4 separate regions of the Homo sapiens genome follow, and all the other regions are linked to region 1. The links come from fine-mapping of genetic effects on plasma protein levels. A gene starts in region 1. Each other region holds a variant in brackets. All regions are shown on one strand. Distances are between the middles of the regions. Region 1 holds the start of KLK14 (kallikrein related peptidase 14). Region 2 overlaps CTU1 (cytosolic thiouridylase subunit 1). Region 3 holds the start of KLK9 (kallikrein related peptidase 9). Region 4 holds the start of KLK12 (kallikrein related peptidase 12).

Evidence for each region. PIP is the chance, under the fine-mapping model, that this variant and not a neighbour inherited with it causes the effect. The UK Biobank Pharma Proteomics Project read protein levels with antibody pairs (Olink). The fine-mapping took linkage between variants from a reference panel, not from the people measured, so its PIPs are less certain.
Region 2: its variant is fine-mapped to the plasma level of the KLK14 protein (UK Biobank, PIP above 0.99).
Region 3: its variant is fine-mapped to the plasma level of the KLK14 protein (UK Biobank, PIP above 0.99).
Region 4: its variant is fine-mapped to the plasma level of the KLK14 protein (UK Biobank, PIP 0.94).

Annotation. Positions count from the first base shown.
Region 1 is chr19:51,078,172-51,086,271 of GRCh38, reverse strand. It overlaps KLK14 (kallikrein related peptidase 14), which reads left to right and starts at 3,385. Exons shown (of 6, transcript NM_001369775.2): 1 at 3,385-3,550; 2 at 3,636-3,697; 3 at 4,569-4,740; 4 at 6,570-6,823; 5 at 7,321-7,457. The coding sequence starts at 3,658.
Region 2 is chr19:51,091,901-51,100,000 of GRCh38, reverse strand. It overlaps CTU1 (cytosolic thiouridylase subunit 1), which reads left to right. Exons shown (of 3, transcript NM_145232.4): 3 at 862-2,395. The coding sequence ends at 1,400. Among named protein-coding and RNA genes, the nearest start is that of CTU1, 12 kb to the left of the region's middle. The variant T/C (reference allele first, on the strand shown) is at 4,589.
Region 3 is chr19:51,006,421-51,014,520 of GRCh38, reverse strand. It overlaps KLK9 (kallikrein related peptidase 9), which reads left to right and starts at 4,929. Exons shown (of 5, transcript NM_012315.2): 1 at 4,929-5,016; 2 at 5,182-5,338; 3 at 7,798-8,063. The coding sequence starts at 4,974. KLK10 (kallikrein related peptidase 10) reads left to right here. Exons shown (of 6, transcript NM_145888.3): 6 at 1-1,782. RefSeq lists enhancers at 4,546-5,046, 7,443-7,942. The variant G/A (reference allele first, on the strand shown) is at 3,155.
Region 4 is chr19:51,030,753-51,038,852 of GRCh38, reverse strand. KLK12 (kallikrein related peptidase 12) reads left to right here and starts at 3,851. Exons shown (of 6, transcript NM_001370125.1): 1 at 3,851-4,047; 2 at 4,213-4,268; 3 at 4,714-4,873; 4 at 6,718-6,977; 5 at 7,932-8,065. The coding sequence starts at 4,232. RefSeq lists an enhancer at 237-737. The variant C/A (reference allele first, on the strand shown) is at 3,548.

The sequences.
Region 1 (8,100 bases):
GGTGAACTGGGCCTCATCAGCTGCATCTCCAGCTGTCTCCCTACCTTTGAGCTGAAGGCCTTGGGGAGCCTTCCAGTCATTCTGTGCCCTGGCTCAGGCTCTGCATAAACACAAGAACCCCCTCTTTATTTATTTGTTTGTTTATTTATTTATTTTGCAACAGAGTCTCGCTCTGTCACCCAGGCTGGAGTGCAGTGGCACAATCTCAGCTCACTGCAACCTCTGCCTCCCGGGTTCAAGCGATTCTCCTGCCTCAGCCTCCTGAGTAGCTGGGGCTACAGGCACCCACCACCATGCCCAGCTCAGTTTTTTTGTATTTTTAGTAGAGATTGGGTTTCACCATGTTTTCCAGGCTGGTCTTGAACTCCTAACCTCAGGTGATCCACCTTGGCCTCCCAAAGTGCTGGGATTACAGGCGTGAGCCACAGCACCTGCCCCCCTGCCACCCTTTAAAGAAAGGATTCTCTTGGATCTCAGGGATAGAGTGGCATGAAGGAGCCACTCCCAGGCTCCTGGGGGTTGACCAAGGCCTTCTGCTTAAGTAGGGTGTTCTTTTTAGGAACAGGGAGACCTTGTGTTTACTAGGAAATTCTGTTTTATTTTTAACTTTTTCCTTTGAGATAATTACAGACTCACAGGAGGCTACACACACAGCATAGGGAATCTCCCTCACCTACTTCTCCCCGTGGCGACACCTTGTGTAACTGTCGTTCAGAATGGAAACCAGGAAATCAACACAGAAACCAAACTATTAATGAGACTACAGATCACACTGCGCGTTCATTTTTCACACGCATTTCTTTGCACGTGTGTGTGTGCACGTGGGCTTCTGTGTCTCTTTATCTCATGTGTAGAATCGTGTAATCACCGCCACATCCAGTGCAAAGCTGATTCGTCACCACAGAGCAGCTCCCTCCTGCCACCCCATCCCTGGGTCCCAAGAGAACCCTTTCTTAAAAGAGGGAGTTCTTGACGGGTGTGGTGGCTCATGCCTGTAATCCTTGCACTTTGGGAGGCCAAGGAGGGTGGATCATTTGAGGTCAGGAGTTTGAGACCAGACTGGCCAACATGGTGAAACCCTGTCTTTACTAAAAATACAAAAAAATGAGCGGGGCATGGTGGTGGGTGCCTATAGCCCCAGCTACTCAGGAGGCTGAGGCAGGAGAATCGCTTGAACCCAGGAGGCAGAGGTTGCAGTGAGCCGAGATTGAGCCACTGCACTCCAGCCGGGGCTAAAGAGTGAGACTCTGTCTCAAAAAAAAAAAAAAGAAAAAGAAAAAAAGAAAAAAAAATAAAATAAATAAATAAATAAAATAAATTTAAAAATTTAAAAATAAAGAGGGGGTTCTTGTGTTGATGCCGAGCCTGAACCAAGGCAGAGGAGGCCGGGAAGGCTTCCCAAGGCCTTCAGCTCAAAGCAGGGAGGCCCATAGTTAAACAGAAACAGTTCAGGAATCACAGAAAGGCACCTGGGGAGAGATGGGTGTGTGGCTCCAGATGCAGGTGCCCAGACAGTGCGTCCCCAGGTGTACAGACAGACCCAGGCCAAGCTCCAGCTCAAAGAGCCAGCCTAGGGGGGTGCCGAGGTGGAGGGAGGCTGAGTCAGGCTGAGGCCGGGGAACAGTTGGGGTAGCCAAGGGAGGCAAGCAGCCTCCTGAGTCACCACGTGGTCCAGGTACGGGGCTGCCCAGGCCCAGAGACGGACACAAGCACTGGGGAATTTAAGGGGCTAGGGGAGGGGCTGAGGAGGGTAGGCCCTCCCCCAAATGAGGATGGAACCCCCCCAACTCCAGAACCCCCCTGCAGGCTGGCCAGAATCCTTCCCCATCTCATTCACTCTGTCTCTCCTGCTCTCTGCCGTCTCCTATTTTGAATTTCCAACCCCGTCTGTTAAGACTGTCCTTCTGTCTCTGAATCTCTGTCCCCTTCTCTTTCTGGGTCTCTCTCCCTCTCCCTCTGGGTCTCTGTCCCCCTCTCTGGGTCTCTGTCACTCTCTCTTTGCATCTCCAGCTCTCACTTTGTCTCTGCACCTAGCAGATCCCAAGCTGGGGAATGCCAGTTCTGGCACCAACCTTCCTGCTCCCTGCTGGGGCCTCTGCTCCCCCATCTCTCAGGAGTCGAAAGTGAGAAAGCAAGGTGGGCAGCTCTGCTCCAGGTCCAGGTATCTCCCGCCCACCTCCTGCCCGTCCTCTATCCCACCCCTCCTCTCCATCTCTCCCTGGCGCTGCCATCTCTCATCTAGGCCTCCGTCTCCTCTGTCATTGTCCCCATCCCCTGTAGGTGCCCATCCTTCCCGTCTCCCCTCTGCCATCGGCCTGCCTGTCCCATCCTCTTTCTCCCACCATGTCCCGTTCTCTTCCACGTCTCATGCCCGCACTGCCTTCATCATCATCGCTGTTGTTCTGTGTGTGTTTGTGGTGAGTGCCGCATGGTGGGGGCGTCTCGGCCTCTCTCCTCTCTCTCCACTGTTTTCTCTTTCTGTGTGTCTGTTTCCATTCTATCTCCACCTTCTTCCCTCCGTCTTTTGCTTTTCTATCTCCACTTCTCCACACCCCTCTCTCCCTGCGTCTCTGTGTCTCCCTCTTCCTCTGTCTTGTTTTTTTCCCACCGTCTGCCTCTTCTGTTCCCTGTCACATCCAACTTCCACCGGTTTCTCCAGCTCTCTCCTCAGTTCCTTCTCTCATGAGCACACCTGCCTCTGTGCTCGTATTCCTGGACTCCTCTCTCTCCACTGTCATATCTTCTCATTCATTTTCCCAGTCTCTCTCTGTCTCTTGCTCTCCCCCTCTCTGTCACTCTGTCTCTGTCTCTCTCTTTCTCTCTCTCTCTCTGTGTCTCTCTGTCTGGCTCTCTCTCTGTCTCTCTCTCCATCTCTCTCTCTCTCTCCCCCCCGTCACCCTGTCTCTGTCTCTCTCTGTCTGTGTGTCTCTCTGTCTTTCTCTCTCTCCATCTCTCTCTGTCTCTCTCTCTCTCTCTCTCTCTCTCCCTCTCTCCCTCCTCCCGTGACTCCCTCTCTCAGTCCATCTCTTCCTCCCTCTCTCAGCCCCTTCGTGCCCTTTCCTCTGACACTCCCCACCCTGGTTTCCTGACTCCACCACTAGATCCACCACCTCCAGCAACTGGGAACCCTCCCCTGCCCACCCTGCCCTGGGGTCCCCTCCCAGGATTCCTTCTAGATTATAGCATCTTCCCTGGGCGGGTTCTCATGAACAATTGTGGCTGCTTTTTTGGCCAGACAGGGGAGGGAGGGGATGGGATCAGGGAGTCCTGGAATGGGAACTAGGCAATAAAAAAAAAAAAATGTCAGAAGCAGGGCGGCGGGAGGTGGGGGCAGGGCCAGCTGTCCTTACCAGGGATAAAAGGCTTTGCCAGTGTGACTAGGAAGAGAGACACCTCCCCTCCTTCCTTCATCAAGACATCAAGGAGGGACCTGTGCCCTGCTCCACATCCTCCCACCTGCCGCCCGCAGAGCCTGCAGGCCCCGCCCCCCTCGTCTCTGGTCCCTACCTCTCTGCTGTGTCTTCATGTCCCTGAGGGTCTTGGGCTCTGGGTAAGTGCCCCTTGCTGTCTCTGCCTCTCAGCCCCCGGTTCTGTTGAAGGTTCCTTCTCTCTCACTTTTTCTCTGCATTTGACAGGACCTGGCCCTCAGCCCCTAAAATGTTCCTCCTGCTGACAGCACTTCAAGTCCTGGCTATAGGTAAGAGAACGGTTGGGTATGACACAAGGGGGTCCCCTGGAGACTCTGAGAAGAGATGGGGATGGGTCCTTGGGGCCCCTGGATGCTCATGGTGACCTCATAAGAAAGAGCAGGGAGTGGTTTGGGGGTCATGGTGGGGGAACGTGCTGGAGGCCTAAATTCCTAGTTGTGGAGGTGCTAGGGAATTGTGGGGCCGGGGAGAGAGGTGTTTATAAGGTCTGGTGCAAAATACATAAGGAATCTTAGGGAACTATTAGGTCCTGAGTGGGTCATAGCAGAAAGATCACGGGGCTCTACCTGACTGTGTTAGGAAAGAAACAATGTCAGAAAGATGTTTTGTTGTCAGAGGGAAGGTGGAGAAGGATGATGGGATGGCGGGATCGTGGCATGGGGTGGCGGGATCGTGGCATGGGTGTGTGAGGTGGATGGGGGCAAGTGTGGGGCAAGAGATGGCGGATCCTTGGGGTCCCACTGAGTGGGAACGTTGGGGAGGAGACAGGGAGGTCCTTGAATGTGTTGGGGAAGGACTCATTGGGGGGAAATGTGGCATATTTCGAGAAGTGATCACAGAAATTATGGGAGCATAGAGCTAAGGGTCGTAGATGTAGCAAGGCCCTGGATAAGGTGGCCACGGCACAAAATAAGAGATGCTACGGAGGTGACTTGGGAGGTGAGTCAGAAAGCTCTCCGTGCTGGGGCAATAACGGGGTCAATATTGGGCATGTCTCACCCTGGGTGGGACAGATAGAGGCGGGCAGTTTAGGGGTTAGACCAAAAGGAAGGGGATTTGTCAGTTTTGGAATCCTACAAACTTGTGGAGTGGAGAGTGTTTGCTCATCTACTTTCCCCACCCAATCCTGTCCACTCCTAGCCATGACACAGAGCCAAGAGGATGAGAACAAGATAATTGGTGGCCATACGTGCACCCGGAGCTCCCAGCCGTGGCAGGCGGCCCTGCTGGCGGGTCCCAGGCGCCGCTTCCTCTGCGGAGGCGCCCTGCTTTCAGGCCAGTGGGTCATCACTGCTGCTCACTGCGGCCGCCCGTAAGTGACCCCCTCCCCTGTCCCTGTACCTAGTGAATTCCAGAGTCTAAAGCCCTAGAGCTGAGCTGAGAACCTGGATCTCTGTATAGAACCCAATGTAGTGGCTGGCTCCTGGTTTGAGGTCTAGAGAAGAGCCTGGAACAAAAACACAGCTCGGGATGTGGGCTCCTCCATAAATCTCGAACTCAGCATAGGTTCTGAAAGCAGATGGGCAGCTTGGAACCCATGGACCTGCTGAGAACCGAACATCTGATCCAGTGATTCTTCCAGAGGCCACACATTACATCGAGACCAAGCTTAGCCCATTCCAGATTGGTGGCTGAATTCAGGACCCCGTCTACATTCAGAAACTCAGGACACTACGTAGAACTCAGAGCCCAGTTCAGGACCTGCAGTCTAGCCATAAATCCAGAACTAGAACGCTGCTCACAGCTGGAACATACAACTCTAAGAATAGAGGCAAAACCTGGAGGCTGTTTCACACCCAAGGTTTAGTTCAGAGTCTAGTCTATAGCTCCGCTATGAGCAGACTTCAACCCAGTGTTTGAATCCCAGAATGTGGCGGGTGCGGTGGCTCATGCCTATAATCCTAGCACTTTGGGATGCTGAGGCAGGCAGATCACCTGAGGTCAGGAGTTCGAGACCAGCCTGAGCAACATAGAGAAACCCTGTCTCTACTAAAAATGCAAAATTAGCCAGGCATGGTGGCACATGCCTGTAATCCCAGCCACTCGGGAGGCTGAGGCAGGAGAATCACTTGAACCTGGGAGGCGGAGGTTGCAGTGAGTCAAGATCGCACCATTGCACTCCAGGCTAGGCAACAAGAGCGAAACTCCATATCAATCAATCAATCAATAAATCCCAGAATGCAGATCCTAATCAGAAGCCCCATATAAAACCTAGACCCCTCCTAAATTCTAGATCTGAACTTACAACCCAGACCCCAGCCAAGAGGTCAAAATGCCTATAAGCCATATCTATGCCATAAACAGGTCAGTCTAGAACCTAGAGATCAAAGCTCAGGCCAGAGTCTAGAATATAAAGGCCAGAATGCAAACCAGACTCTAGAATCTTGGATCCGGGCCATAACCTAGAGCTCCAACTAGAACCCAGAGCCCAACCTGAGGTCAAGGGCTAGGGCCAGAGTCCAGAACCAAGAGCCCTATAATCCAATATGAAACAGACCTGTAGAGGCTGGGTGCGGTGGCTCACGCCTGTAATCCCAGCACTTTGGGAGGCTGAGGCGGGAGAATCACTTGAACTGGGAGTTGGAGGTCGAGAGTGAGCTGAGATCGTGCCACTGCACTCCAGCCTAGGTGACAGAGCGAGACTCCATCACAAAAAAAAAATAAATAAATAAATCAAGTCATAATCCAGGTTCGATCTAGAATCCTGATCTTAGCATAGAGTCAAAAGTTTAAGATGTCTAGAACTCAGAACCCAGGCTAGAAACAGAATGGTGCCTACTCCGGAATATCAGTTCCGATTTAGAGCCTAGACTCATAACGCAGTTTCGCTTAGGACTCAATGCACCGAGCCCAGCACAGACCCTGGCACGGAGCCAAGCTCTCCCAATCATCACCTTCTTCCCAAGCCAGGAGCTGGAGCCCAGCCCAAGAGCGGAAGGAGAGGCAGCTGGGGCTGGGCCGAGAGAATGCCCTGGCCATGGGGAAGGGCACAGGAGGCCAAGAATGCTCGGCCTGCAGTTAGTGAGAAGCAGGCTAGACCTCGGGGAAGACTCGTCACCCGGCCAGGGAACCGGGCTGGAGGGTGGGGAGGAGTCTCTGGCTCAGACCCTGAGCAGCGCTTCTCTTGGGGGTCGTGGCCAGGATCCTTCAGGTTGCCCTGGGCAAGCACAACCTGAGGAGGTGGGAGGCCACCCAGCAGGTGCTGCGCGTGGTTCGTCAGGTGACGCACCCCAACTACAACTCCCGGACCCACGACAACGACCTCATGCTGCTGCAGCTACAGCAGCCCGCACGGATCGGGAGGGCAGTCAGGCCCATTGAGGTCACCCAGGCCTGTGCCAGCCCCGGGACCTCCTGCCGAGTGTCAGGCTGGGGAACTATATCCAGCCCCATCGGTGAGGACTCCTGCGTCTTGGAAAGCAGGGGACTGGGCCTGGGCTCCTGGGTCTCCAGGAGGTGGAGCTGGGGGGACTGGGGCTCCTGGGTCTGAGGGAGGAGGGGCTGGGCCTGGACTCCTGGGTCTGAGGGAGGAGGGGGCTGAGGCCTGGACTCCTGGGTCTCAAGGAGGAGGAGCTGGGCCTGGACTCATACGTCTGAGGGAGGAGGGGCTGGAGCCTGGACTCCTGGGTCTCAAGGAGGAGGGGCTGGGCCTGGACTTCTGGGTCTGAGGGAGGAGGGGCTGGGGACCTGGACTCCCGGGTCTGAGGGAGGAGGGACTGGGGGTCTGGACTCCTGGGTCTGAGGGAGGAGGGGCTGGGGGCCTGGACTCCTGGGTCTGAGGGAGGAGGTGCTGGGGCTGGACTCCTGGGTCGGAAGGAGGAGGGGCTGGGGGCCTGGACCCTTGGGTCTTATGGGAGGGTAGACCCAGTTATAACCCTGCAGTGTCCCCCAGCCAGGTACCCCGCCTCTCTGCAATGCGTGAACATCAACATCTCCCCGGATGAGGTGTGCCAGAAGGCCTATCCTAGAACCATCACGCCTGGCATGGTCTGTGCAGGAGTTCCCCAGGGCGGGAAGGACTCTTGTCAGGTAAGGCCCAGGATGGGAGCTGTGGTAGGGATTATTTGGGACTGGGATTTAAGCAAATGATGTCAGGAGCATGGAAGTCTGCAGAGGTCTTCAGAAGAGAGTGAACCGCAGGCACAGAGAGATTCCGATAGCCAGGCCACCCTGCTTCCTAGCCCTGTGCCCCCTGGGTAATGGACTCAGAGCATTCATGCCTCAGTTTCCTCATCTGTCAGGTGGGAGTAACCCTCTTAGGGTAGTTGGTGGAATGGGATGAGGCAGGTTGGGGAAAGATCGCAGAGTGGCCTCTGCTCATATGGGTCTGGGAAAGGCTGTGCTGAGGCTTCTAGAAATCTTAATGCATCCTTGAGGGAGGCAGAGATGGGGAAATAGAAAAAGAGAGACACACAAATGTTCTACAGTTGGAGCGAACAGAGAGGGGCCTGGTGAGATTCAAGGGACAGGCAGGTGCACACAGAGACAGAGCCAGACCCAGCGGAGAGGGAAGGAAGTGCCCCGACCTCCGGGGCTGAGACCTCAGAGCTGGGGCAGGACTGTGTCCCTAACTGTCCACCAGTGTCTCTGCCTGTCTCCCTGTGTCTGCTTCTCGGGTTCTCTGTGCCATGGTGGCTCTGGCTACCTGTCCATCAGTGTCTCCATTTCTGTT
Region 2 (8,100 bases), 14 kb before region 1:
CACTATGTTCAAAGGTCTCCATGGCCCTATCTCTCCCTTTTCTGCCTCCCTCCTCCCCTCTAAGGGTCTTTGTGATTACCTTGAGCGCACCTGGATAACGCACCATTCTGTCCCTATTGTAAAGTCAGCTGATTAGCAGCCCCAATTCAACTTGCAACCTTAATTCCCCTTTGTCCTACAACCAAACATATTAACAGGTTCCCAGAATTAGGCCATGGATTCCCTAGGCGGTGGGGGAGACAGCAGCCTGCCTACCCCTCCAGCTCTCCTGAGAATCTCGGTTAAATGCCTTAAATGCCTTCTGATTTTTGTGTACAGTTTGAATTACGGTTTTAACTGAGGCTGATAAGGTTATTAGCAGCATAATGCACTTTTACTCCCTATATGAAAGGGCAACTAGCATAAGGTCCGCTATGCAGTAGGCGGGTGGTACATGAAGGCACGCCCAAGTTGCGCCAGGGGAGCTTATGTTTCTCTTTGATTTTTTGTTGTGTCCACCTGCAGCCTGCACCTGGCTGCTTCACGGTTCCCGGAGGGTCTCCATGGCTCGCTCTTGCCCTCCCCGTCTCTCTCTGCGTCCTGGTTGCCCACAGTGCCCTAGGGGTCTCCATGGCTCTCTCTCCCCCTCCCTGTCTCTGGATCCTGGCTGTCACACCATGTTTGGGGGTCTGTCTCCATGGCTTGCTCTCCCCGTCGCCGTCTCTCTCTGGGTCCTGGCGGCCCCACTGTGCCCTGGGTCTCCGTGGGTCTCTCCTCCCAGTCTCTCTCTGGGTCCTGGTGGACCCTTGGTTCCCCGGGGGGCTCCCTGGCCAGCAGCGCCCTCCGCGCCCCACCTCACCCGCTCCCTTCTCTCCCCACCAGGTCACAACGCCGACGACATGGCGGAGACCGTGCTCATGAACTTCCTACGGGGCGACGCGGGGCGGCTGGCCCGGGGCGGGGGCCTGGGCTCTCCCGGCGAGGGGGGCGCCCTGCCGCGCTGCCGCCCGCTGCAGTTCGCCTCGCAGAAGGAGGTGGTGCTGTACGCGCACTTCCGCCGCCTCGACTACTTCTCCGAGGAGTGCGTCTACGCGCCCGAGGCCTTCCGCGGCCACGCCCGGGACCTGCTCAAGCGCCTGGAGGCGGCGCGGCCGTCCGCGGTGCTGGACCTCGTGCACTCGGCCGAGCGCCTGGCGCTGGCCCCGGCCGCGCGGCCCCCGCGCCCCGGCGCCTGCTCCCGCTGTGGGGCGCTGGCCAGCCGCGCGCTCTGCCAGGCCTGCGCGCTCCTGGACGGCCTGAACCGCGGCCGGCCCCGCCTGGCCATCGGCAAGGGCCGCCGGGGTCTGGACGAGGAGGCGACGCCGGGGACGCCCGGGGATCCGGCCCGGCCCCCCGCCTCCAAGGCCGTCCCCACCTTCTAGCGACTTCGGGCCTCCCGCCGGGATCTGATGCCGCGGGGTGGGGGCTGCCTGTAAATGACACTGTGAATAAACCCGTTACCTTACCTGGCCTTCCATGTGGGGTTGGGAAGGAGACGGGGGCCCATTCACCTGAAACCCTGAAGAAGCTGGGACCCCAGACTTCGAGGTCTCAGGGAAGAAGGGTCTCGAACTGGGCTTCAGGCTCTGAGGGAGGAGGGGGCTGGGGGACCATCCTAGGTCTGAGAGAGGAGAGGGCCAGGACTAAGCCTAGAAGAAGTGGGACTGGGGACCCCAGGCATCTGTGGCTGAGGAAGGAGGGCCTGGGGTCGTGGACTCCTGGGTCTCAGGGAGGAGGGGGCTGAACACCGTGTGATTCTTGAGCGAGTGGGGATTGGTTGGGGACCTCCTGCCCAGGGCCTCTGCTGGTTCTGGGTGCGCTCAGCATGGTCCTGACCCTCCTTGAGCATCAGATTCCTGATGTTTCCTGTTTGCCCGCAGTGGGGTAAGCGGAGCGTGACTTGATGGACACACGCCATTCACAGCCGCCGTCACGATGCCTCCCTTCCAGCGCTTCGTGTGTAGCACGCACTGCACCCTCATTTCGTCTCCACCACGGTCTCACTGGCTGTAGCCTGAAGTGGTAAATGGCCCTAAGACACCCAGTCGGAAGGGGTCACACCGAGGGCTCCCTCCAAAGCTCTCGAATATCACAGGTCGTGGAATTGGTCCTCCCCCACCCATCCCCTCTCGAATCTCTCCTGGTATCTCTGTCACGGGTGAGGAGGGGTTGGATGCGTTCCCCAAACCTTGGACTCTGGAGGCAGGGTTGTGTGAGCCTGTCGGTGACTTAGCCTCTTTCATGTCCCATTTCTCCTATGAAAATATAATCAGCCCCCTTCCCCCCCGCCCCCCCATCCCCCCCGCATCAAGGCACCACTGGGAGGAAATGGAAGATCAGAGAAGTTGAGGTGCTCAATAAATGGTGACCACTTGGACTTGGTCGTTCATGTTACTGTCTGACCACCAGGGGGCGCCGGGTCTCAGGGTTGCTGTCCTGTACAGGTACGGGGAGGTTGTGAGAATCTCAAACTTCCCGGGGAGATGGTGCTCTCAGTCCCACCTCCAGGACTTGCTGGGCTGGCTTCTTGTCAGAAATGCCCCTTCTTCCCATCACCCTGCTCAGATCCTCCAGGGTCCTCCTAGAAGGCTTCTCAATTCTCTCCTCCCATCACCCAACCCAGGGCTTAGTATTCTCCCAAACCCCTGCTTCTCAGTCCTGTCTTCACTGTGTGGCCACCCAAACTTGGGCTGGAGGCCAAGGACTAGATGATTCACTCAAAACGTGTATGAGCATCTCCTTTGCATCAGGCACTCCTCTGGGTTCTAGGAACATGGCAGTGAACAGGAGACAAGTCTCTGCCCTCATGAAGTTCAGTCTGGGAGAAACGGACAGCAAGCACATCAATATGTAATGTCAGGTAGTGATGAATGCTACAAATTAAAAAAAAAATGATGAGAGAGAGAGACAGGAAGAGCTTGTTTCCACAGGGGTCAGGGAAGGAAGGGCCTTGGAGGAAGTGACGTTATGCACAGACCTACAGAAGCAAAAGAACAAAGCATGGAGCCATTTGGGGGAAGAGCTTTCCTGGTGGAGGGAACTGCTGGTGCAAAAGCCTGGAGGGGTGGGAATCAGCTTGCAAGTGCAAGGAACAGCAAGTCCAGTGTGGCGGGAACAGAGTGGGTGAGGAGGAGAATAGCAAGAGATGAAACGAGCCACTAAGCAGGGATGGGCCGTGCATGGTCTTCTGTTGGCAAGAAAGACTTGTATTTTAAGAGTGATGGTAGGTCTTTGGAGGGCTTTGGTCCCAACAGTGGGTCCAATTTCCATTTTCTAAAAGTTACTCCAGCTGCTGTGAGGAGAATGAGCTGTAGGGGGTGCAAGATGATCAAGATCAATTGTATAGGATGACGCTTGTGTGCCAGTCCTAGTGCCAAGTGTGCCTGCCTTCCTCATTAGCTCAGTGACATAAGGAATGGGTTTTCAGCACCAATTTTTTTTAACTGGTATGTAGAAGAATCTAAAAGTTTATTTTTTATTTTTTAATATTTTATTTTTCCATAAGTTGTTGGGGTACAGGTGGTATTTGGTTACATGAATAAGTTATTTAGTGGTGATTTGTGAGATCCTGGTGCACCCATCACCTGAGCAGTATACACTGCACTGTATTTGTTGTCTCTTTTCCCTCGTTCCCCTCCCACTCTTCCCCCCAAGTCCCCAAAGTCCATAGTATCATTCTTATGCCTTTGCACCCTCATAGCTTAGCTCCCACATATCAGTGAGAACATAGGATGTTCGGTTTTCCATTCCTGAGTTATTTCACTTAAAATAATAGTCTCCAATCTCATCCAGGTCATTGCAAATGCTGTTAATTCATTCCTTTTTATGGCCGAGTAGTAGTCCATCGTATACGTATACACCACAGTTTCTTTATCCACTCGTTGATTGATGGGCATTTGGGTTGGTTCCTTCAGCACCAATTTCATAAAGGATGAAATTACAGCCCAGAGAGGTGAAGTAAGTTGCCCAGGGCCACACTGCAGCAAATCAGCAAAGGAGCTGGAGCTCTGGACACTTTTGCTGGGCTACCTGCTGGAAGCCAGGGGACCTAGGTTCCTATTGCTGACGTGCCAGTGATTTACTGTGTGGCTTTGGGTAAGGGACCTTTTCCCTTCTGTTCATTGGAGTTTGTCCCTGTGCATGGGGTGGGGTGGGCAGTGGATTAGATTTCTTTTGTGGTTTAAGGCACTCTCCAATCGAAAATGCAAACCGTATGTATAATTTAGAATATTTTCATAGCCGTATTTTTAGAGAAGGGACACAAGTGATATTTTAATAAATTTATTTGACCCACTTATACAAAATATTATAATTTTAATATGTAATCAGTTTGTTAAAACTTAAGCGAGATGTTTTATACATGTTTTTTCATATAGAGTTTTCAAAATTCGGTGTGTATGTTACACTTTCGGCCCATCTCAATCCAGACTCCCCACAGTTCGGCTGCCACATGGGACCTGTGGGCACTCCACTGGACCGCGCAGGTTTGCAATGTGCTTCCTAGACCCAGACTGCCTGAGTTCAGAACCAAGCTCTGCCGGGAATGCTGTGTGACCTTGAGCAGGTTCTT[T/C]GGCTGTACAGTGTGGGGAGGAATGGTACTTCCGTCCTGTGGTTATTGTTAAAAATACATATCAGTGCTTAGAAGAGCGCCTGGCATTTAGTGAGTGCTCGCCGTCCCTCTTAGCCTGGGCTTGCGGCCTTCCTCATGGGGGTCTCTGAAGAGCTGGGGGTGCTAGGTGTGGTGGCTCACGCCTGAAATCCCAGCACTTTGGGAGGCTGAGGCAGGCAGATCACTTGAGATCAGGAATTTGAGATGGAACCCTGCCTCTACGAAAAATACAAAAATTAGCCAGGCGGGGTGGCAGGTGCCTGTAATCCCAGCTACCCAGGAGGCTGAGGCTTGAACCCTGGAGGCAGAGGTTGCAGTGAGCCAAGATCTCGAGATCTGGCCACTGCACTCCAGCCTGGGCGACAGAGCCAGGCTCCGTTTCAAAAAAAAAAAAGAAAAAAAAAAAAAAAAGCGGGGCGGGGGGGAGGTGCTCTTTTCGTCTCTGGCCACAAGGGGTCGCTGTGACCTCGCCTGTGCATCCGGTGGTCATTGACATCAAAGCCAGGTCTCCCCCTCCCCAGCCCCGACTGGGAGCTCAGCTGTCTCTGCCCACCTGCCCGCTGGTCTCTGAGCCAGTCCTTAAGGGTGAGAGACACAGGTTGGCAGAGATCTTAAGGCCCCGTATAAACACCAGACACTCCTTGACCTCAAGACCCCTGTGTCATCCACTCAACAAATACTTTTTGAGCAGGTGATTTGTGACAGCAGTGAACAGAACAAAACCATGCCCTCAAGGGAGATACAAAAAAAAAAAAAAAAAAACGAGAAAAATAAGTCAAATATATGGTATGTTGGATCGTGATAATCGCTTCTATTTAAGTAGGAGGGACGGGGAGGCTTCAAGGAGGAGATATTCAGGGAAAGGTGCAGGGTGAGGCAGAGAGCACAGGGGTGGAGGGTCTCTGGGAAAGTGTTCCTGGCAGGAAACAGCAAGTGCAGACTCTGAGATTGAGGGAAAAAGGAGAGGGGGCAGGTGGAGGAGAGAGGTGAGAGGGAGAAGCGACTTTGGCTTGGCTTTGTTTCTAAGCACTGCAGAAGCCATGGAGGATATTTGAGTAAAGGAGGGATACTGATCACCCCTTTATTCATGCAGCAAACATTTCCTGACGCCTCCTTGGAGCTGGCGGGCCCTGCGCAGGGCGGTGGGGCAATGCAGCTGAGTCAGCCCCAGTCCCTGCCCTCAATGGGCTCCCTGTCTGCCAGCGGAGGCGGGCAGGGATACTGGCAAGTCAAGATCCGGAGGGATATGTGCCACCGTGGGGCTTAGGAGGGACACAGGGGAGGCCTGAGGTGGGGCTTCTAACTCAGTGCGGTGCGTCATGGAACGCTTCCTGAAAGAGGTAATGTGTAAACCGGGAGCTGGAGATGAGTAAGAATGAGCACAGGAAAGGGCGAGATGGGGACAAATGTGCAAGGCAGAGAGAATGGCAGGCACAGAGGCCTGCAGGCATGGGAGCCCCAAGTCCCTGCGAGGCTTTGCCGCTCCTCCCTGTGCAGGATGGTGGAGGGGGTGGCCAGCCCTCCATAAAGCACTGGAATTCTTCTGGCCGGGATGGGGCACTTAGGGAGGGCGAGAGCAGACAGGGCCGGCTCTGGGTGTCAGAAAGATCCCTCTGGGGCCGTGTCCAGGAAGGACTGGAGTAGGGAAGACTCAGCCAGGAGGCCAGGGAGAGGGCTGGGACAAAGGTCTGGGAATGGATTTGGTAGCCAAAACTGGGGCAGTGGCGAGGGTGTCAGGATGGTGAGAATGGATGTGAGGGCCATTTAAGAAGTCCTCACCAAGAGCTGGGAACCCTATTCAATGCTGAGGGTGTGTTTCCTAAGGGCGAAGAGCCCTACGTGTTCTCAAAGGCAGTGTAAATCCAAGAGACATTTCTTCCAGGCAGACTGAACAAAAACAAACAAAAAAGATGTTCGCCACATATGCCGGTGGCCATGGTAAACCCGGGAAATTCTTTTGCTGGAGGAGGAAGGCTTGGTAAATATGGAGGGCAGGGGCAGGGAGCTGCTGAGGCTGGAGGCCCAAGTGAACACAGACGCTCCTTTAGCTAAACAGGAGGCCCCAGTCTTCATGGGGACAAAGGGACTTTTGCTGTGGCCTGTGGCCTTGGCAAACACAGCCTCTACATAAACACAACTAAAGGTGGCAGTGGGGCGAAACGCCAGCGTCTCATCCCATCAGGTCAGAAGCATTCTCCCCACTGCAGGGATTTGGAGCCCAGTCTCAGAAAGACCGGCTTCCCCATCTTCCACCTGTGTGCTCTCCTGGGGCTGGGTCATTGGAGATCGCTGTCAGGTCTGAGGAGGTGGAGACATTGAGTGCAGAGATTCTGGAGAAAAGCAGAGATTCTAAACAGGCTCTGAGATGATCTTCCTCCTTCAGCCTGTTATAGAGCCCCTGCCACGTGCCGGGTGGCAGACGTGGCAACAGGGATTCAGCAACAAGATAGACAAGGTCCCTGCCCTCGTGAAGCCTCAGTTCTAATAAGAGATGCCTCTTCCTTCCACAAAGGTTTACTGAACACCTCCTATGTGCCAGGGCATAGAGGCAGATAAAGACAGTGAAAATCCCTGCACTGTCAGGGTTGCCATTCAAGTCGTGGGAGACAGAGTAGACGTAAGAGTAAGAAAGTAAATAAATAAAACATGAGAGACATCCGACAGTAATAAACACCATAGAGAGGAAGAAAACCAGCAATAATAATAAACAAGGAAGCAAACCGATAGAGCAATTACAGATTGAGATAAGGTGTAGGAAGGAAACCCACAAGAAGCTGAGATGGAAACTGGAAGGGAATGCCAGCTCTGGAGAAGGTGGTCAGGAGATGACCTTTAAGCTGAAATCTGAAGGAAGATCACAGGCAGAGTGGTGGGAAGCATGTCCCAGGCAGAGGGAACAGCAAAGGCCAAGCCTCTAAGTTGGGAAGGCGCCTCCCAATGTTGAGAAGATGGAAGAAGTTCCAGGGGGCAGAGGCACAGTACACAATGCAGTGATGAGGTTGGAAGGATGGACAGAAGCCAGACACCAAGTGCCTTGGAGGCATTTGCGTTTTATTATAATTGCAGTGGGCACTCACAGATGGGTTTTAAGCAGGTTTTAACATGATATTGTTTTAAGAAGACGTTGGCTGCTGAGTAGAGAATGGACTTAGCAGGGCGAGGGAGGGAGGGGTTGGGGGTCGAGGCTGGAAGCAGCGAGACCAGTTTGGATGCTCTTGCACCTGTGTAGGTGGGAGATAAGGGTGACTTGGAAGAGGGCGACTGAGAGGAGACAAGTGGGTGGATTCTTTACTGTGTACTTTGGAGCTAAGTGACAGGAACTGCCAAAATGGGAGGTGAGAGCGAGGGAGGAATCAGAGACGCTCCCAAGCGTCTTTGACCCAAGCACCTGGGGAGAGGATACTAACTTAGAGGAGACACAGGGGGAAGGTTGGGGTACACCGTGGAGCTTAAACAGAAATAAATGGGAGGGG
Region 3 (8,100 bases), 72 kb after region 1:
GAGCAGTTACTGGGGTCACCCAACCTGACTTCCTCTGCCACTCCCTGCTGTGTGACTTTGGGCAAGCCAAGTGCCCTCTCTGAACCTCAGTTTCCTCATCTGCAAAATGGGAACAATGACGTGCCTACCTCTTAGACATGTTGTGAGGAGACTATGATATAACATGTGTATGTAAATCTTCATGGTGATTGTCATGTAAGGCTTAACACAGTGGGTGGTGAGTTCTGACTAAAGGTTACCTGTTGTCGTGATCTGACCACGTCCCGGTGAAAGCGTGTGTCCAGGGAAGAAGTGCACAGGGTAGCCCCCAGTCCCAACCTTCCATCCCCAACCCTTAGGGATGATGGAAGAATCATTTTCCTCACCCTAGTTCCAAGTCCCAGGAAACACCTTTTAACCACTTCCTTCTCATCTCCCACTGTTTCCCACTTCTGGTTCCACCCAACACCAGTTCCTCCGAGCTAGGCTGGCCCTGAGTCATTAGCACCTTCTCTGCCTTCATGAGGCCACTGAACTCAAGGGACCTCACCTTGCTTCTATCCCAGCCTCTAAGACCAGAGGGCCGAGGGGGTAGTGAAGATTGGGAAACCCTTGCCACCTCAACTGCCCAGCTTGTGCCAAGAAACCTCCCTCTGACATTTAGGGGAAAATCTTTGGTTTGTCTGTTATTAATTGGCTGTGAGATTTTCGTCCTGAAAACTTGGGAGGAGGAATTGTTTGATTCTCCCTGAAATTGGGGGAGGGAAGGGGAGTTAATACACAGAATCCAGGTAAGGCTAATAGAAGCTTCAGTGTCCGCTGGGTGTGGTGGCTCACGCCTGTAATCCTAGCACTTTGGGAGGCCGAGGAAAGCAGATCATCTGAGGTCAGGTGTTCGAGACCAGTCTGGCCAAAATGGTGAAATCCCATCTCTACTGAAAATACAAAAACTAGCCAGGCATGGTGGCAGGCACCTATAATCCCATCTACTTGGGAGGCTGAGGCAGAAGAATCACTTGAACCCGGGGGGCAGAGGTTGCAGTGAGCCAAGATTGCACCATTGCACTCCATCCAGCCTGGACAAAAGAGCAAAACTCCATCTCAAAAAAAGAAGAAGTTTGAGTGTCTCAGCTTATCCTGAACTTTGAAGCAGTAACATAAGCTAGCTGAATATAGGCACAACAGAAATTTCCCATTAAGCACGGGGTTTTTGTTTGTTTGTTTGTCCTTTCAGTTACCAATTTATGGAGCATCTATTATGTGCCAGGCCCAGTGCTGGGTGCTGGGGACATACGTAGGGGTGATCACAAGGTCCCCCACCCTGCAGAGCCCACAGGAGGTTGATGTACAAGGTCTGAGCACACAGCTCCCTTCCGTGGCCTCTTTCCCATTCTGCCCCCATTAGCACACGCAGGAAATGTCAGACAGGCGTATCAGCTGGGTTTGTCATCCAAAGACCAGAAGCGAGGTCGGTGGAAACTTGAAAACTCGATTCATTATTAAAGGCAACTCACCCGTCCCTTTAGTCACTCCACAATGTTTATCGAGCCACGTCTTATGCCAGGCCTCAAAGATGAATCAGACCAGGCACTACCCTCAAGGAGCTGCTAGTTAGGTCAGGGAGACAGGCCAGTCTTACATTCCTGTCATTCAGGTCTCCACTCAAAAGTCACCTCCTCCGGGAGGCCTTCCTGAATTGCCCAGGCTATAGGAGTCCACTTTTGGTCATCCAGTCCCGATGCTCTGTTTTTTGTTTGTTTGTTTTTTTTTTTAATAGCACCTATTATACCTGAAATTATCTCATTTGTGTTTACTTGATAATGGTCTATGTCACCCTTCCCCACAAATTCCGTGAGGGCAGTGATTCAGATATTTGTTCACTGTGATTTTCTAAGCTCCTGTATTGTGCCCGGCACACAGAAGTCACCCCCGTTGCTGTGTGAACACATAACACAAATAGATCAGTGCTGTAACAGAAGGGGGTATGGGGTGCACCACACCAAGTCCACAGGCTGTGCCTGAAGGAGTCAGGAAAGGCTTCTCAATGAGGGGACATTTGTGCAGGAGTTTAAAGGATAAGTAGGAGTTCACCAGGTAGAGAAGGAAATGCATTTCAATCACTTTGCTGTATGACTTTGAGCAAATTACTTGAATGCTGTCTCTTCCTCAGTTTTCACTCTGTGAAATGGAGACACCTGCTTAATTAGACTCCCGTGAGAGTTAAATGAGATAGGCTGGGCGCAGTGGCTCACTCCTATAATCCCAGAACTTTAGGAGGCTGAGATGGGTGGAATGCTTGAGCTCAGGAGTTTAAGATCAGCCTGAGCAACATAGTGAAACCTCGTCTCTACTAAAAAAAAAAAAAAAAAAAAAAAAAAAATTAGCCTTGCATGGTGGTGCACACCTTGTAGTCCTAGCTACTCAGGAGGCTGAGGCAGGAGGAATACTTGAGTCCAGGAGGTTGAGGCTGCAATGAACTATGATCATGCCGCTGCACTCCAGCCTTGGCAACAGAGACCCTGTGTCAAAAAACAAAAAACAACAACAACAAAAGGATAATTAAATGAGATAATATACATGCAAAGTTCACCTAACACCAGGCACTGAGAACACAGTCAATAAAGGTAGCTATTAAAATGCTCATTTTTTTTTTATTTTTCTTTTGAGAGTCTTGCTCTGTTGCCCAGGCTGGAGTGCAGTGGCACGATCTAGGCTCACTGCAACCTCTGCCTCCCGGGTTCAAGCAATTCTCCTGCCTCAGCCTCCCGAGTAGCTGGGATTACAGGCCGCCCGCCACCATGCCTGGCTAATTTTTGTGTTTTTAATAGAGTCAGAGTTTCACCATGTTGGCCAGGCTGGTCTTGAACTCCTGACCTCAAGTGATCCACCCACCTCGGTCCCCCAAAGTGCTGAGATTACAGGCGTGAGCCACCGCGCTTGGTCTAAAATGCTCTTAATAGCAGTTAAGGTGGCACTTAGCACATAGTGGATACCCAGTCCCTGATCTCAAGGACTTCCCTGTCTGGAAAGGGAGTGAGACAACTGCAGGCAAGGGTGAAATGAGCTATGATAAAGGCACCACAGGTTTCTGCAGGGGATGAAGAGACATTGAACATTTACCATGTGTCAGACACTGTTGTGCTTCATGTGTGTAAATTTGCTTAATCCCCCCAAC[G/A]ACCCTCGTTATTACTGCTACTTAACAGATGGAGCAGGCCAGGTGCGGTGGCTCACGCCTGTAATCCCAGCACTTTGGGAGGCTGAGGCAGGCGGATCACGAAGTCAAGAGTTGGAGACCAGACTGGCCAACATGGTGAAACCCCGTCTCTACTAAAAGTACAGAAATTAGCCAGGTGTCTTGGCGCACGCCTTTAGTCCCAGCTACTTGGGAGGTCGAGGCAGGAGAATTGCTTGAACCCAGGAGGCAGAGGTTGCAGTGAGCTGAGATCGCGCCACTGTACTTCAGCCTGGGTGTCAGAGCAATACTCCGTTTTGGAAAACAAACAAACAAACAAACAAACAAAAAACAGATGGAGCAACTGAGAGAGGTCTTGTGACTTGCCCAAAGTCACACACCTCATCACTAATCACACCTAATCATTGAGATTTGGACACACATGGTTCAGTTCCAGAGTCCATGCTCCAAACCATGACGACACAGTGAGAGAACATTCAAGGGGAGCCCAGACCCAGCTTCATAACCAGGCCTGTGAGCAGGAGAAAGTGGAAGGGATCGTAAGTGCCCAGGGGAGGCAAAGATGGACTCTGCCTGAGGATCTCAGAGATTTCCTGGAGGAGGGAGAATTGAGGTTGGGTGTTGAAGGATGAGTGGGAGTTCACCAGGAAAAGAAGGATATGGAGAAAGACATTCACTCATTCAATGAACATCTCCTGAGGACTTCTGCAAGCCCTGTTCCGCCTGGAACGGGGTGATGCTGGGACACAGAGATGAGTCAGACCTGGGCCCAGCCCTCCAGAAGCTGTCCACCTGGTGAGAAGGAATGATGAGGAGAGAGGCAGGGAGGATGGGGTGATGGAAGGGACAATGGGGTGGGGGGCAGGGAGATGGATGAAAAAAATATATAGCAAATGTTCTCAGGATTTGGCAAAGATCAGGATGTATTAAGAGAGAGCACAGGGCACTTGCTACCTGGAAGGTTGGGCACCTGGGTCCTTGGGTGGTGGAGCCGTGGGGAAGGGGGCAGGTTATGACAAGAGTGGGTTAATCCAGATGGAACCAGATTTCTCAACATTCTAGGAGAGGGCCTTGTCCTTGTGGGAAGAGGCCCAAATCCCCAGGGCAGGGAAGGTTCTGCAAGGTGTGTAAACCTGTGCAGCTGCCTGTGGTCTCTGCCTCACTCCACCTGGATTTCCCTCAATCTTTCCCGTGTTCTGTCTCCTCCTCCCACTCCTCCTCTCATCTTGGGTCCTTCTGTGCCTGTACCTCCCTCTCTTTGTATCTTTTGCTCTTGTGTCTGAGTCCTGACTCTGTCTTCCACCCCTCGCCTCCTTTCTGGGTGGTCCCCCTGCACATCCCTCCAGCCTGCCGTGGGAGGTTGGTCTCTGCACACCACTGCTTTATCCAAAATAAACCTGCTGCACCCCAGGACCTTAGGCTTCAAGGATCTCCCTCCTTTTCCAGGACACAAAAGATTCTGTATCTTGTAGCCTAAGGTGATGAGGAATGAGGTCTCCCACTCTGAAGACCCCAGAGGAGGTGCCCACAACCTCTCCACACCCCCAGCACTCCTCCTCCATTCAGTCAAGCTCTGGCCCAGCAAGCCGCCAGTTCATCCCAAAAGGGGGGTCCCCCTGCACTTACCTCCTCTCCCAAGGCCCCTGTCACAGCCCCAGGGCTTCCCCCTCCCCCAGGTACATTTCCCAACCCCGATTAATCACAGGGGCGGCCCCATGGAGGAGGAAGGAGATGGCATGGCTTACCATAAAGAAGCACTGGACGCCGGGTGCACGTTCCAGGATCCAGGTGCCCAGGGGTCATGAAGCTGGGACTCCTCTGTGCTCTGCTCTCTCTGCTGGCAGGTGAGGCTCCCAGGCTGGCTGCCCCTTCACGGCTGTACTAAGGTCACCTTGCTCTTCCCTCCCATCCCAGGCTTCTGCCTCCTGCCCTCTAGGCTTCTCAGCATCCTCTCCCTGCCCTCCCAGCCTGCTCTTCGCTGACCCCTTTGTCCCTCATCCCCACCCCAGGGCATGGCTGGGCAGACACCCGTGCCATCGGGGCCGAGGAATGTCGCCCCAACTCCCAGCCTTGGCAGGCCGGCCTCTTCCACCTTACTCGGCTCTTCTGTGGGGCGACCCTCATCAGTGACCGCTGGCTGCTCACAGCTGCCCACTGCCGCAAGCCGTGAGTGACCCAGGCTGGCCATGCTGGGGAGGGACAGAGGCTGGGGGTCAGGAGAGGGTGAGGGGTGCTTTAGGCCAGAAGTGCGGAGCCTCCACTTCTGATACCACAAGTTCAACTCTTAGAAGTAGGAAGGGTAGCCTCCCAAATCCTAAAATTCTAGAGACCAGCAATATCTCATTTGAGAAGTCTAAGATTCGAAACTTAGGCTCTTCGAATCCGAGACTGACCCAGAGAAATCCAGAATCGTAGAATCCTAAAATCTTGAATTTATGAAATTCTGCAATAGCCTCAGCAAATTTTAGAATCATAGATTCGCAGACTATTAGAATCTTAGCAGTCTGGGTCAGCACTGCCCAGAGGAATTATGATGCCAGCCACATGTGTAAGTTTAAATTTCTGGTGGACACATTTAAAAAATAAGGAATGAGTAAAATTAATTCTAATAGATTTAACTTGACATACCCAAAAACTTATTTTGACATGTAATCAATTTTTAAATACGTATGAACGATACAGTTTACTTTTGTTTTGGTACTAAGCCTTTGAAATCTGTTCTGTATTTTACACACATAGCCTGTTACAAAATGGACTAGCCACATTTCAAGTGTTCAATAGCCATAATGGCTAGTGTGATCCTAGAATCTTAAATTCAGAGCTTTCTAGATTCATTGAATATTGAAACTCACAGTACTAGAATCTTTGATTCACAGTATCCTAGAATATTGAGATTCAGATAATTCTGTAGTCTTAAACTATTTGAATCCCAGACTCTTAAATTTCTAAGGTTATAGATTTATAGAATGATGACATTCTAGTCTTTCTTTTTTTTTTTTTTTTTTTTTTTTGAGACAGAGTCTCCCTCTATCTCCCAGGCTGGAGTGCAGTGGCACAATCTCAGCTCACTGCAACCTCTGCCTCTCGGGTTCAAGCAATTCTCCTGCCTCAGCCTCCTGAGTAGCTGGGATTACAGGTATGCACCACCATGCCAGGCTATTTTTTTTTTTTTTTTTTTTTTAGTAGAGACGGGGGTTTCACCATATTGGCCAGGCTGGTCTTGAACTCCTGACCTTGTGATCTGCCCGCCTCGGCCTCCCAAAGTGCTGGGATTACAGGCGTGAGCCACCGCGCCCAGCCAAAATTCTAGTCTTTTTGTCCTAGAACATTAAAATTCTATGTTCAAATCTTAGATTTAATTCAGATAATGTTAGAATCCTGGAGTTTTTTTGATCCAGGGGAATCTGGAATGTTAGAATCTTGGATTCATAAAACTCTAAACCTTGAGCCTCTAGATTCTAGAATCATGGATAATAGTGTGTCGGAATCTGAGAATTCTAGAATCTTAGGTTCTGGGCATTCTAATAGTATCCTGGAATCCACCTGATGCAGGAATCCTCTCTCCATTGCCTCTGAAAAGTGACCATCCATACTGTTCCAATTTTCTTCCCTCCATGAGTAAAGCACTGATTGTGGTAAGAGATGCTGTGTGGGAATTTCCCATCATGCATTGCTCCATGATGGAACCTCCTTTAACTTAAGCCTATACATCAGACTGGGAGAACGATGTTCAGATTTCAGCCGAAAGTGAAGCAGGAGAAATGCAGAGATATGAAGGTGGAAGAGAGTGAGAGGCAGGGGAAGGGTAGGGGGATGAAGGGATGTAGGGGTGAGGACTACTTTTCCAGATCCAGAGCCAAGACAGCAAGAATGACAGAGAGAGACAGACACAGATGTTTCTGGTTCCCCAACCCTGAATTCGCAGTCATTAGCCTGCTGCCTAATGTCAGAGGTCAGAGGCTGGGGAATGGACTTGTCATCCCCGAAAGGATCCCAGCTGTCTAGGGCATGGACCAGAAATGAAACAAGTGCGCTGAGACTGTGGTGAGGGCTTAAGGTTAGACACCAGGAAGACATGCATTGAAGGGTGAAGGATATGATAGACAGGAAAAGCTGAGGCCAGAGATGACCCCCAATTTGGGGATTTTCCATATCCCATCCCCTTTCATACACACGCACACGTATACACACACACCACTTAGACATACAGAGCCGCTCCCACAGAAGCCACCAGACCTGTGGGGGCAGGGGTGGGGCGGTTGTTATGTGGTAGGTGGGGTCCCCCGTGCCCACACCGTTCCTAGGGACCCAAGTCACCACCAAGGCTCCAGGTGAGTAGGGAGGAAGGTGGCTCACTCAGCCTGGGACTAGGAGCGGGGGCTTTGTGGGGAGAGCTACAAAGATGGAGACACACAAAACATCAGAGTGGGGACCAGGGACCCAGAGGAGGTGTGTGCCTCGCTTAAAATCACAGTACCCTGGGCCAGACATAGATGATGAGGGTGCAGAGAGGGTGTGTGGCTTGCAGAGGGTCACACAGCACCCTGATGGACAGGAAAAGAGGGCTGGGGCTGAAAGGACTTTTACCTTTCCCCCAGCTTGACCTCTGAGGCCTGTCCCAGCAGGTATCTGTGGGTCCGCCTTGGAGAGCACCACCTCTGGAAATGGGAGGGTCCGGAGCAGCTGTTCCGGGTTACGGACTTCTTCCCCCACCCTGGCTTCAACAAGGACCTCAGCGCCAATGACCACAATGATGACATCATGCTGATCCGCCTGCCCAGGCAGGCACGTCTGAGTCCTGCTGTGCAGCCCCTCAACCTCAGCCAGACCTGTGTCTCCCCAGGCATGCAGTGTCTCATCTCAGGCTGGGGGGCCGTGTCCAGCCCCAAGGGTATGACCTGGCCCAGAACTCTCTCTGAAACTTGCTC
Region 4 (8,100 bases), 47 kb after region 1:
AAAATTAGCTGGGTGTGGTGGCAGGTGCCTGTAATTCCAGCTACTCAGTAGGCTGAGGCAGAAGAATTGCTTGAACCCAGGAGGCGGAGGTTGCAGTGAGCCGAGATTGTGCCACCGCACTTCAGCCTGGGCAACAGAGCGAGACTCCATCTCAAAAAAACCCAACCAACTCAACAAACAAACAAAAACCAAAAAACAGGTATGATCTCTTGGTCATAAATTGAGGGGGGATCCCAGCAGGTCCCATTTGTTCAGATTCTTCTGGGCCTTTCTGTGTTGCATTTCTTCCTCTGCAGGACACCTGTCACATGAGGGTCTTCAGGGGAAAAGGAATTCTAGTGTCTGTGACTGCTTCAAAGGAGAAGTAAGGGGAGAGGAGAGGAAAGCAGGAGGAGGTTGGAGAGAACCTCTTGTTCCTGAGGTCTTCCAATCTCCTTCAGCTCAAAGCACTCAGCATGCTGAAGTTCCAGACTCTGGGCTATCACGTTCTGACATGCAACACAGGCAACACCCCAGCTCCATCCACGTTTCTCCAAAAGCACAGGCATGACGTCATATGGTGACAAACACCCTTGTCCAAAGGAAGCCCATAGGATACGCTAATTCTAGATTCACAAATACTCTAGAGGAACTCACACAATGGGATGGGCCAGTGCCCCACACAGAGTATGAGGCCTCCCACCTTGGTTGAATATCTTTTTCTTTTTTTTCTTTTTTTTTTTTTTTGAGACGGAGTCTCACTCTGTCACCCAGGCTGGAGTGCAGTGGCTCGATCTCGGCTCACTGCAACCTCTGCCTCCCAGGTTCAAGTGATTCTCCTGCCTCAGCCTCTGGAGTAGCTGGAATTACAGGTGCCCACCACCACAACTGGCTAATTTTTGTATTTTTAGTAGAGACGAGGGTCCACCATGTTGACCAGGCTTGTCTCGAACTCCTGGTCTCAAGTGATCTGCCCACCTCGGCCTAGTGCTGGGATTACAGACGTGAGTCACCACGCCCGGCCCCACCTTGGTTAAATTTCTGAAAATCATTTGGTAAAGTGAGGACCCCTCCAGCTGAGACACTGCCAGGAAACAGCTATTGAGTCTCTTAGCACCCACAGCATTAAAACAAACCCAAAACATTTTAGGCCTCGTTGAGTTCTGGAGGCAAAATATTCCTCATCTACAAATTTATTTTATTTTATTTTTTAATAAAAGTTATTATTATTTTTTTTTATAGAGAGACAGGGTCTTGCTCTGTGACCCAGACTAGAGTGCAGTGGTGTGACCATGGTTCACTGCAGCCTCCACCTCCTGGGCTCAAGCGATCCTCCCACCTCAGCCTGCCAAGTAGCTGGGACCACAGGTATGCCCCTCCCCCAGGCTAACTTTTTTTTACTTTTTGTGGAGATGAGGTCTCACTATGTTGCCCATGCTGGTCTTTTTTTTTTTTTTTTTTTTTTTTGAGACGGGAGTGCAGGCTGGAGTGCCCAGGCTGGAGTGCAGTGGCACAATCATAACTCACTGCAGCCTCAAACTCCTGGGGTCAAGTGATCCTCCCACCTCAGCCTCCCACATAACTAGGACTACAGGCCTGTGTCACCATAATGCCTGGTTAATTTTTTTAGTTTTTGTTTGTAGAAACAGGGTCTCACTATGTTACCCAGGCTGGCCTCTAACTCCTGGCCTCAATCCATCCTCCCATCTCAACCTCCCAAAGTGCTAGGATTATAGCCACGAGCCACCATGCCCGGCCCCATACTTATATTTACTTGTAGTGAGAACACTTAAACCCTACTCGGTCAGTAATTTTCAAGTACACAATACATTGTTACTAACTATATACATGGTATTTTTAATTTGCATGAATGCTCCTTAAAATCAGCGAGCCCGCCTTATTTTTTGTATTCAATTTTATTGGATATAAATTCCACATCAGTAAACCTGATTCTCTTAAAAATCTACACAGAAAAAAAAAAAGAGAGAGAGGTTGAGTTGGGTAGTTGTTGGTATTTTTGTTTTTGTTTCTTTGCTTATTCAGTTGAGGTTTATTGTAAAACTTGACACCAGAAAAAGGAAGAAGTGGCGTTTTTGTGCTGTGAGCGTGTGACGTGTGTCCTTTCCAGAGAAAGGACAGTCATGGTGCTTTTTTATCCTCTCTGCCCAAAGAAGGAAAGCTCTTAACAGCCAGCAGGAGGCTTTGTAGGGACCAGCGTTATCAACGCCAGTCGCGCTGACCAATGATGAGTTAAAGCAGTTAGGTCGTTTCTAAGAGCAAATCAAAAGCTAAGGTTCTGTGATTCTGAAAATGAGACACGGACAGAGACTGGAGACCCAGAGAGAAAGTGAAGGACTAAAAGACAGTCATAGGGTGGGAGTTTGCTCTCCTCTGTTTTGTTCTGGGTTTTTTTGTTTGTTTGTGCGCTCTGTCTGACCGCTTTTCTTTTTTTTCTTTTTCTTTCTTTTTTTTTTTTTTTTTTTTGAGATGGAGTCTTGCTCTGCCGCCCAGGCTGGAGTGCGGTGGCACAATCTCGGCTCACTGCAAGCTCCGCCTCCCACGTTCAAGGGATTCTCCTGCCTCAGCCTCCCGAGCAGCTGGGATTACAGGCATGCACCACCACACTCAGCTAATTTTTGTATTTTTAGTAGAGATGGGGTTTCACCATATTGACCAGGCTGGTCTTGAACTCCTGGCGTCAAGTGACTTGCCCGCCTCGGCCTCCCAAAGTGTTGGGATTACAGGCGTGAGCCACCGCGCCTGGCCCTGACTGCTTTTCTCTTGGTTTGTTTCTCAATCCCCCTTCCTCTGAGCCGAATTCCCTTTTTGTTCTCATTTTCTCTCTCTGTCCCCTCTCTCTCTCCTTCTTTCTCTCCTTCCATTCCTCCTAGATGAAGCAAAAACTCAGATAAACCAGCACAGAGGCCAGGTATGGTGGCTCACACCTGTAATCCCGGCACTTTGGGAAGCCAAGGCAGGCAGGTTGCTTGAGGCCAGGAGTTCAAGACCAGCCTGGCCCACATGGTGAAACCCCGTCTCTACTAAAAATACAAAAATTAGCCGGACATGGTGGCACGTGCCTGTAATCCCAGGTACTCAAGAGGTGGAGGTTGCAGTGAGCGGAGATCACAGCCCTGCACTCCAGCCTGGGTGACAGAGCGAGACTCCATCTCAAAACGAAAAACAAAAAACAGCACAAAGTTCCCTTGTCCTGTGACTCATTCTCTCTCTCTCTTTCTACCATTTCTCCTTCCCTGTGTCTTTTTTTTTTCTCTCTGTGGGTTTTATTTAAGCAATAGAAGTTCTTAGCAAAGAAAAACTTTATGGAATTAGATTGATCCACTTCATATGTACATATATGAACTCAGTTCAGAAACTCTCTTCTACCCCTGCCTGATCACCTATTTGGAAGTCTGTTCCTTCAACTCTTCTTCTCTTTCTGGGACTCTTTCTAGCTTGGGCTTCCTGCCCCTCCCGTCCACTCTCCTGCTTTCACAGCCTCTCCTTCCCCCTGCCCCTCCCCTGCACTGCATGGGGATGGGCCCCAGGTGTCCAAGGTCTCCCCACC[C/A]TCCTTTGTCACTGGAGTCAGGATTAGAACCCAGCTCCCTAGTCACCTTGAGTCATCAGTCCTGGGGCTGCTGACGGGCTTGCAGAGGAGAGAGGGAGTGGGGCTGGGTCTTCCCACCCTGGGTCCTTTCCTCCTTCCCCACTCCGTTTAGCTGTAAAGCTCAATTAAGTGTGATTAGCTGAGAAGAGTTTCTGCAGAATTAGAGCACGCCCCACCCCTGTCTTCGTGGTCCCCTTCCCTTAACCCGGAAACTGGATGGGCCAGGACAAAGAGAGTTAAGAGCTTTGTCAGTGGTCTGTCTGGAGCGACAGATGGAAGGAAAGGGACCGGTTGAGCAACATGACAGGTGGCTGAGGAGCCAGGTGCAGAGTGGTAGAGTTGGCTGGCGGAGTGGCCAGCACATGAGAAGACAGGCAGGTAGGTGGACGGAGAGATAGCAGCGACGAGGACAGGCCAAACAGTGACAGCCACGTAGAGGATCTGGCAGACAAAGAGACAAGGTGAGAAGGAGGTAGGCGACTGCCAATGAGGGAGTGACACACAGGGGAGCAGGTAGAGAGAGGACAAGCAGGTCATCCCCTTGGTGACCTTCAAAGAGAAGCAGAGAGGGCAGAGGTGGGGGGCACAGGGAAAGGGTGACCTCTGAGATTCCCCTTTTCCCCCAGACTTTGGAAGTGACCCACCATGGGGCTCAGCATCTTTTTGCTCCTGTGTGTTCTTGGTGAGTTCTCCCGGAGCAGGGAGAGGGCAGGACTGCGACTGGATCCCTTCACCCCCATGAGGAGGCCCCACCACCCTCCCCATCTCAGCTCTGGCCCCCAGCCTGGTGGTGAGGAGGAGAGGGGCTTTCTCTGTGCCTCCATTTACCTGCAGCTCTCAGGGTACTGCTCACCTCGGTCTCCCCTATTTTTTGATCCCTCTTCCCTTCTGTCCCTCTCTGAATCTCTGTCTCTCCATTTCCCTCCTATGTGTAAGCATCTTTCTCCCTGGGTGTCTTTGATGTTTCATGGTCTTTTTCTATCACTGGGTCTCTCTCTCTTTCTCTCTCTTTCTCGTCTCTCTTTCTCCTCTCTCTCTCCTGCCTGTTTCTCTCTCTCACTCTGTGTGTCTCTCCATCTCTGTATCTTTTCTTCCTCTCTCTGACCCATGCCCCTGTCTGTCTCCAGGGCTCAGCCAGGCAGCCACACCGAAGATTTTCAATGGCACTGAGTGTGGGCGTAACTCACAGCCGTGGCAGGTGGGGCTGTTTGAGGGCACCAGCCTGCGCTGCGGGGGTGTCCTTATTGACCACAGGTGGGTCCTCACAGCGGCTCACTGCAGCGGCAGGTAAGTCCCTTCCTGGGGTGGGCGAAGGGAGGACTATGGGAAGGCAAGCGCTGGGGGTAGGATCACAAGGGAGGGTGGTGCCCACTGGGAAGAAGCTGATCCTGCAACAAGAGAGTCTGAGGTTAGACCAGGAGTGGAACTTCCTTAGCAGTGGGCCTGGGGTGGTGCTGGGCAGGGTGAGGTATGTTGGGTGGAGGGCCGGGGAGGGTCCTGGAACCTGCCCTCCTGCCTCTCCCATTCCTGCATGTACCCTTTCTTTCCTATATGACATCTGCCACTCACCCCAGCCATTCCTTGACCCAGTCTGGGCCCGGGGCCCAGGTCTCACCCAAGCTCTTTTTCTTTTTCTTTTTTTTATTTTTTTGAGACAGGGTCTCGCTCTGTCGCCCAGGCTGCTGTGCAATGGCGTGATCACAGCTCACTGCTGTCTCTGCCTCCCAGGTTCAAGTGATTCTCCTGCCCCAGCCTCCTGAGTAGCTGGGATTACAGGCACCCGCCACCATGCCCAGCTAATTTTTGTATTTTTTGTAGAGACAGGGTTTTGCCATGTTGGCCAGGCTGGTCTCGAACTCCTGGCCTCAAATGACCTGCCCGTCTTGGCCTCCCAAAGTGCTGGGATTACAGGTGTGAGCCACTGCACCCGGCCAACATGACCCAAACTCTTTGTGCAACTTCAGAATCTATGCCTGGCACCTCTCTGGGCCTCAGTAGACTGATGTTCTGGAATTTTTTTCTTTTTCTTTCTTTTTTTTTTTTTTTGGAGACAGAGTCTTGCTCTTTCTGTCATCCAAGCTGGAGTGCAGTGATGCTATCTTGGCTCACTACAGCCTCAACCACCTGGGCTCAAGTGATCCTCACACCTCAGCCTCCCAAGGAGCTAAGACTACAGGCCTGCGCCACCACACCTGGCTAATTTTTAAATTTTTTTTGTAGAGACAGGGTTTTGCTATGTTACCCAGGCTGGTCTCAAACTCCTCAGCTCAAGCAATCTTCCTGCCTTGACCTCCCAAAGTGCTGGGATTACAGGCATGAGCCACTGTGCCTGGCCTGGAACTTTTTTTGTGAAAGGGGAGATCAGATGCAAAGAAACAGAGACTCAGGGAGAGAGAGGGCCAGCAGCAGGATGCAGAGAGGCCATTCATCAACCCACTCGTTCAATCATGAACCCACTCGTCCACGCATGAGCATGGAGGGCACATGCTCCGTGCCAGGCGGTGGGAATAAGGCAGTGAACAAGGTCCACTGATGTCCCTGCCTTCATGGGCTTCACCAGCCGAGAGAATCAGAAAGAGAGGCCTGGCGCGGTGGCTCACACCTGTAATCCCAGCACTTTGGGAGGCCGAGGCGGGCGGATCACTTGAGGTCAGGAGTTTGAGACCAGCCTGACACACATGGTGAAACCTTATCTCTACTAAAAATACAAAAATTAGCTGGGCATGGTGGCATGCTTCTGTAATCCCAGCTACTTGGGAGGCTGAGGCAGGTGAATTGCTTGAACCTGGGAGGTGGAGGTTGTAGTGAGCCAAGATGGTGCCACTGCACTCCAGCCTGGGCGACAGAGCGAGACTCGGTCTTGAAAAAAAAAAAAAAAAAAAAAAGGAGAGAGAGAGACACAGATGCAGGGACATGGTAGGAGAAACAGGGAACACCCAAGATGGAAAGAGGGTGATGGAGGTTGGGAATAAGAGCCTGTAAGAGAGACTCGGAGAATGAGAGTTGCGGGTGAGAGGACAGACAGTGAGGGGCAGAACAGTGGGGAGCGGCAGGAGCGCCTGAGTGTCCGTGGAGGGGTGCAAGGTGGGGGACTGCGTGCCTGCCACCCGCTCAGCCGTCGCCACCGGCAGCAGGTACTGGGTGCGCCTGGGGGAACACAGCCTCAGCCAGCTCGACTGGACCGAGCAGATCCGGCACAGCGGCTTCTCTGTGACCCATCCCGGCTACCTGGGAGCCTCGACGAGCCACGAGCACGACCTCCGGCTGCTGCGGCTGCGCCTGCCCGTCCGCGTAACCAGCAGCGTTCAACCCCTGCCCCTGCCCAATGACTGTGCAACCGCTGGCACCGAGTGCCACGTCTCAGGCTGGGGCATCACCAACCACCCACGGAGTAAGGGGCCCAGGGCCAGGGGTCAGGGGTCAGGATGGGTACAAGTCTGGGATGCAGGGCGAGAGGTCGAATCATGACACCTCAGAGGAAGGATGGGTAAAGGGTCAGGGTGTGGGATGGGACATCAGGATCATGGTTTGGGGTCAGAGATTATGGTGGATTGGGGTCTTGGGAGCCAAAGGGGTTAAAGGACTGGGTATGAAGTCAGGGATCAGAGGTCAGAGGTCAGAGTGTGTCAGAGGTCATCACACTGGAGCAAAAGGCATATATATATATATATGTATGTATAGGATATGGGCATTGTGGGTCATGGGTCTGGGGTTAGAGGTCACCGTAGAATTAAGGTCATGGGATCCAGAGGTTGTACAATCTGGTCAAAATCTGAGGATGGAAATTGGGATTCTATCCAAAATCACATATCTGAGATTGGAGGTCATAGCGTTTGGGGTGTGGGGCCCGAAGTTTGGGGTCATGGAGGCTGGGGCCCAATAAACTAGGATCAGGGGACACTGGCGTTGGAAGCAGTGAGGTTTGGAAGATGCAGAGCTGAGGTTGGAGGTTAAGGTAAAGACAGGGACATGGGGTCAGGAGACAGAAGATATGAGATCAAGCTGGGATCATAAGGTAATAAGACAGAAGGTCAAAGATCACAGTAGCTGGCATTGAAGAGGGTCAGGTCTGGATTCGTTGTCTCTGACGCTGGAGAGACAAGAAAGTTCTTGAGTTATGCCACTCAAAGTCAAATGTCAAAGATCAAAGAGACCGTCAATCATCTGGGGTCATGATTCATATGAAATTAAGTCATAAATATGTAACTTGGAGGTTTCGGGATTGTAGTACAGGTCGGTGAGGGGCAGGGGTATTGACATGGATGGGCCACATCCAGGGAAGAGGGACGTGGCCTCAAAGTGGGGAGATTTAGGGGACCCTGCAGCACGCATGTTCTCTCTCCAGACCCATTCCCGGATCTGCTCCAGTGCCTCAACCTCTCCATCGTCTCCCATGCCACCTGCCATGGTGTGTATCCCGGGAGAATCACGAGCAACATGGTGTGTGCAGGCGGCGTCCCGGGGCAGGATGCCTGCCAGGTGAGCCAGTGCAGGCAGCGTGCGTGGTCACCAGG